Linked DNA regions of Homo sapiens: region 1 is linked to region 2. The links come from fine-mapping of genetic effects on gene expression. Tissue or cell type: sun-exposed skin. Region 2 holds a variant in brackets; the other region holds the start of a gene. All regions are shown on one strand. Distances are from middle to middle.

Region 1 (2,900 bases), 35 kb after region 2:
GTAAAGAGAAACATGGACCTAGGAACCTCCACGCGTCTTTCTGGGCCCTCAGATTGCTTCTTTCAAGTTTCCATATGGATTCCTCTCCATCCACAGGTCCTTTCCTCTTTGGTAGACTGGCGACCCCAAAGGAAGGCTCAAGGCTCTCCCTCCTCCTTCCCCCTTCTTGAGGCCTCCTGGACAAGGTGGCCATACCTAGAACTTGGACCCAAAGGGAAGCTGAGCGAGAATTTACTTGAATGGGCAAGAACAGAGCCTGGCTGCAGAACTGAGAGCTCTCAGAGACTGACGCCTGAGGCAGGGACCAAAAACCGAGAGCAGAGGCAGGCAGGAGCAGCTGTGGGATGGGGGCTGGGTGGGGTGGGCAGAGGGTGAGAACTTGCCTGGGAGTGGGTAACTAACTACTCTCAGTTAAGTTTGGGCTTCGCTGCCAACCCGCTAGGCCACCTTTACCTGTGTAGTTCTCCTTATTAAGCCATTTGCACTAGGAGGAGGTTGGACAGGACTGTAATAACAGTAGCAATAGTAATTTATTCAGCATCGGCGAATCAATGATACCAGGGAGAAACTACTATGGGGTGAGTGTACCATTTTTATTTAATGCTGCTGTGAAGAGACCTGGGGGCCGGTACTATTGTTCCCTTGTGCAGATGAAGAAGCTGAAGCTCAGAGAGGCTGAGCCACTTACCCAAGCTCACAGAGCTGTGGCACAGCAGGGACTGGAGCCAGGCAGTCTGATATTTTAAGTTGCCTCTGTCCTGTAAGCACCACCATCCCCTTCCTGGTCTTTCTCCGGGGGCGGGGGGGTCACATTGGAGGACATCCCGACAGGCACCCCAAAACTAGCTGACCCTCCCAGGCCTGGGCGGTAGGGGCAAAGAAGAGCCCAAGGAGGGTCTGAGACTTGCCTGGTAAGGAAGGCTTCTTGGAGGAGAGGGAAGACAGGCTCTGATACACAGGAAATCTTGAGGACCTAGGGAGAAGAAAGAAGGCTTTCTAGTCCTGGCTATGATGGAGAGACTGGAAAGAGGGTGGTGAGCCCAGGAGGCCCAGAGTCAGAGGAGACGGGGATGACAGGGGGCTGAGGGCTCCACCTCAGCGCCCCCGACCCCCGCCGCTGGGATTTCCCGCCGCAGCTCCTGCTCCAGTCTGTGCTGCGGGTGGGGTCGGGTTGAGCAGCCCGGCGCCCCCCACCGCGCCCCCCACCGCACCGCCCTCGATCTAACCCCGCCCCCGGGCGCTCATTGGCCTGCAGCACCCCCTCCCCAGCCTGTGAAGTGAGCAGGGGGAGGCGGTGGTCGGTCGCCTCCCTCCAGCGCCCAGCCTGGCTTCGCGGCGGAGGCGGCGCCTCTCCCGCAGGACGGAGCCAAGCTGGACTGCCGCGCCGCGCGGGGCGGGCAAAGGGGGCGCTGCGCTCGGCCCCGGGCAGGGAGTGACGGCGGCGGCGGCGGCTCCGGGCGAGCGTGGTCCCCGCGTGCGCACACGCACACGCCGCCGCGCAGGGACACACGGACCCCGGCCGCCAGCCGGCCACACAGGCGCGGAGACCCGGCTCGGCGCGCGCTCCTCGGCGCACACGCTCCCCATCCCCGCGCCGCGCGGGCCGCGGACTTGCAGGCTGCGCGTCCTTTGCGGAGTCTGCCCCGGCCCCACGGACAGGCCCCGCAGTGAGCAGGTAAGGGTCGCCCCGCCGCGGCTGCCCCTCCACGCCTCGGCCGTCTTCTCCCCCTCCAGAACCTTCGCCCAGCCGGGACCTCGGATCCCCTCCTCTGGCTTGGCGGTCTCCGCCAGCCGCGACCTCCACCGACGGAGAGCGGGCGAGGGCCGGCGCCAGGCAAGCCTCCCAGATCTGAAATGAAGCCCCCTCCCGCCGCTGCGCCCTTCCTGCGCGTCAGGCTGACACCCCCCAACCCAAGTGTCTGGCGCTGCGCTCGGGGCGGCCGATCGCCGCAGACTGCCGGGGTGGGGGTCGACCTAGCTATCTCACGCCCCTCCTGATGCGGAGAAGGGAGACCAGGGGGGCAGGCAAGCCATGCGGCCGGAGGGACCCGGAGGGACATGCCTCCCTACCCTTAGGTGGACGGACGCACCTACGCGGATCGGGAAGGCAGGGCTGGAGGGTCCCCCGGGGCTAGGTACCGCAATCCGCACGGGGTTTGAGGGGTGGGCAAGCAATGTGCTAGGTGGGGGTTGGGGTAGGGGCCAGTGTAGAATGCCCCTCTGTGGTGACACATCCGGGATTGTTCAAAAGAGTGTCGTCTTCGTTTCCCGTGGCGCGGAGGGGCTGGGGTTGGGGATGCCAGGGCTTCAGTGGTCCCCAGAAGAAACGCCCTGCGGGGTCTGTGGGGAAACGCACCGGCCTTCCCAGGTTGAAGTGGGCCCGCTGAGACCCCTGCCTGCCGCTTTAGAGGCAGAAGCTCCTGCGGCGGCTGCGGGGGGCGGAGGCCACATCCTCGGCGGGACCTTGGCAGGTTAGGGGGCTCAGAAGGGACAGGGGAGCCGATGGATGCAACTAGACCCTCAGGAGGGAACCCAGCCGGAAGCCGATTGCATTTCACGTGGAGCTGAGGAGGGGAGCCTCACCCCTGGATGGAGCTCAGCCCCTTTTTGGAAGATGGGGGTGGGGTGGTGGACACCTGCTAATTCTTCCGACCATTTTTATGTTTTTGAGTGCAGGTGCGTCAGACTCCCTTTATCTTCCCCAGCCTTACAATGTCCCGCAAAGCCCCCCTGGCCCTCTCCAAGACACAGCATTTGGCTCTTCCCATGAGCGGCCCTGGGGAGGAGTTGGGGGATGGGAAGGGGCTGGACGCAGCATGTGGAGGGCAACTTGCCCTGGGACTGCAGCTGGCCAGAGGCAGACAAGCATCCTGAAGGTCAAGCTAGAAGCTTTGAGTGGC
Region 2 (2,900 bases):
GCAGCTCCTTGACCTGCCCCCATTGGCTGGGCCTTGGCCACCTGCTGGGGCTCAGCACCCCCCCCCCCCCGCCACCTGCCTCTGCTCCTGACCTCCATGCCCACCACCTATCCTTCCTCCTCACCCTTCCTTCCTTCATTCCACAACCTGAATTGGAAGCCTGGGGTCCGATGTGAAGGCGAAGTCCCACTGAGGTGCAGTCTGGTGGGACATCATCATGCCATGCTCTCCACCACTGTTCATCCAATTCTCTCCTTGTTCAGGAGGCTGAGGCCCAGGGAGGAGACACTGTGCTGAGGGAGCTGAGGGCAGAGCTAGGCCTAGACGCCACTTCTCTCCACTCACAGGTCCAAATATGGGCCCTAAGGCTCACTATCTGCCCTTTCCCATCACCTCAGTCCCGCTGTTCCTCCCCCAACACTCCTCCCCGCTCCTGCTGCCCAACCACTGCTTTTCAGAAGCTGTCCCACCCTAGGGGAATGGGATGGAGGGCAAGATGTTGGTGATGACTGTCCTTCAGCTCACATGGTGAGCATTCAGGCAGTGGCCCATGCTGGTGGTTTGTCCCCTGAAGGGACTGGTGTGGGCAGGGGCTGGGGTTGGGCAGAGAGTCAGACTCACTCCCTTCTTCATCTTGTGCGATCTCAGAGAAGTAGAAAATGCTCCCAGATGTTCAGCCTGGCTCCTCAAGACTTAAATGCCACTGTCACAGGCCCGCTCCTCATGCCACTTGAAGCCTTATCAGTCACTTATACTTTGGTGTGAATGAAGGAAGGGGGCTAGGGAGTGAAGTGGGAGGATTTAGGGAACCAGAAAGGGAGACGCCTTGTCTGAAGTCACACAGCCTGGGCCAGGCAGAGCGGGGCAGCTTCTGAACCTACATACCTGGGCTACAGCTGCTCCTCTGAGCCTTGCACTGCCCCCTCCCCCGCAGTCCTCTGCTCACCATCCTGAATAGCGCCAGATCAGATGGACACTATTAAGAAGCTCTGGGTCAGCTGTAAGCCACCAGTGAGCATGCAGAAAATGGAGTGCAGCCCAGGAGGGAAAATGGAAAAGTCCCTTTGGAATTGCCCCACCCACTCTGCTTCTGGTTCCTTGCAGATTACCAAATTTCCAGCACTGTGCTTTTTTGGGGGGATATAGGGGAAGGGCCTTGCCCCACTTCCCTCTTAGTGGAGGGTGGAGTTTTGTTGTTTTTGCAGTGTTTTTGGCATCAAAGGTGAACTCTGGTTGTCATGGGAACTCCAGCAGAGGGAGGAAGGGAGAGGGCCTGAGGAGGCTGAATTAATTTCAGTTTCGGCTGGTTCTCCAAGGGGGAATCTGCGGGGGGTAAAGAGTGAGGGTCCCAGGAAAGACCCTCACCCAGGAAGGCCCCTTAGTGCCCCACGTCTCACATGCCCAGCCTGGCTCCAGGAGGCTCCCGCGTCTGCCATGCAGGCGTTCTTCCTTTTGGGAGGAGGCATGGGCTTCCCCTGCTGCCACAGGAGGTTCTGGGTCTAGAGAAGGTTGTCTTAGCATGGGTGAAGAAAGGGGATGAGGGAGCCCCCCAGAGAATGTCAGCAGGCTGGGGACCTGTGCAGACCCTTCAGTCCTGTTGGGGCAGCAGGGAGC[A/G]GCAAGTAGGGCAGGGCCAGGTGGTCTCTGAGTGGCTTGAGAACCCTGACTCAATTGCTAGAAGCCTCAGGCTGGGACATCCAATAAGAGCACAGGACCAGGCAAGTGGTGGGTCGACATGTTGTACTTTCCAAGGAAATAGTCCCCTTTTGCTATCTTTTGTAAAACACACATGTCCTCTCATCCTCCAGTTCAATTTTCTACCTTTGATAGTGACACAGTGATAGAGTAATCAATCTCTACTAAAGCAACAGCTCAGGTCCAGTGGTAGATGCCAGCTGGCGTTAGGGATGGGGAGCAATGGGGATTGGTGAGGAGTGTGGTTAAGGGGAGAGCTTTGGTTCTGGATGAGGGGACTGTTCTACACGCTGCATCTGACTGCTGTCACATGCTGGGTCAATGCTGCCAGATTGTCCAACTGCTCAGACGAAGCCAGAAATACAGATTATGTGGACTTCCCTGATGTGTGCCTTTTTCCTTACTATAGTCCTCATTCCAGCTTCCTCTGCCCACGTAGGCCCAAGCCTTCTCAAGATCATGGATGAGGGAAACCTTGCTGTTACCTTGAACAGTTAAGATAAACCAAGCCCTTAGAAATGGTCTTATTTGTCTCATCCTGCTACAGATAGGGAAACTGGGGCCCAGTGGGGCAGAGACCTCCTTAGCCAAAGGCACTGGATGGGTTAGTAGTAAGCCGCAGCTGGAGGTATCCAGGGCAGATAAACAGAAGGATGACCCAAGAATGCATGTGCTCCTGTGAGTACGTGACAAGCGATGTGTCCCATCAGGGTGAGACGAGACCACAAAGGTGTGGGAATGATGTTAATTTTAGCCCACATTTATTGGGACAGGCACCAGAACAAGCAGAGTTTGGGTCTATTGAAAAGATATTTTATTTTTGTACCACACAGGCCCTTTAAACTGTATTATGGGAGAAATCCTTGCTTGCTTTATGAGCTGAAAACTCAGGTAGGTCCCATGTTTTTTCTGCTCACTCCTGTGTCACAGACAAAATGTTCATTAAAATTCTGAAATTGATTTAATGGCACTTCTTTTCCCCATGCCAGACTCAGGGCTGGAACCTGCAGTGGAAGGGGCAGGGGGTGAGGACATGGCCAGTTTCTTTGTTCTCCTTGGCCTTCTCTCTTCCAGCCGCCCTCCAGTTTATAAGCCAGTTTCTGACCCCTCCTGGGTGTGGGTAGGGCAGGAGGGAGGTGGGAGAGAGGGCTGGTAATGGGAGGCAAAGTCTTGCTGGAACTGGCTTTGCACACTCTCTGGGCCTGGCA

Alleles and levels. Alleles are on the strand shown, and positions count from the first base shown. SD is a standard deviation of normalised expression in the study named.
In carriers of allele A in region 2, the expression in sun-exposed skin of the gene that starts at base 1,305 in region 1 tends to be lower than with G alone (small effect, 0.24 SD a copy in GTEx).

What was found. PIP is the estimated chance that this variant, and not a neighbour inherited with it, causes the effect.
Region 1: ADCYAP1R1 starts here. The variant in region 2 is fine-mapped to the expression of ADCYAP1R1 in sun-exposed skin (GTEx, PIP 0.93).

What each region holds. Positions count from the first base shown.
Region 1 is chr7:31,051,004-31,053,903 of GRCh38, forward strand. It overlaps ADCYAP1R1 (ADCYAP receptor type I), which reads left to right and starts at 1,305. Exons shown (of 16, transcript NM_001118.5): 1 at 1,305-1,675.
Region 2 is chr7:31,016,338-31,019,237 of GRCh38, forward strand. The region is part of intron 2 of LOC105375222 (a long non-coding RNA gene); the gene reads left to right. Among named protein-coding and RNA genes, the nearest start is that of ADCYAP1R1, 35 kb to the right of the region's middle. The variant A/G (reference allele first, on the strand shown) is at 1,615.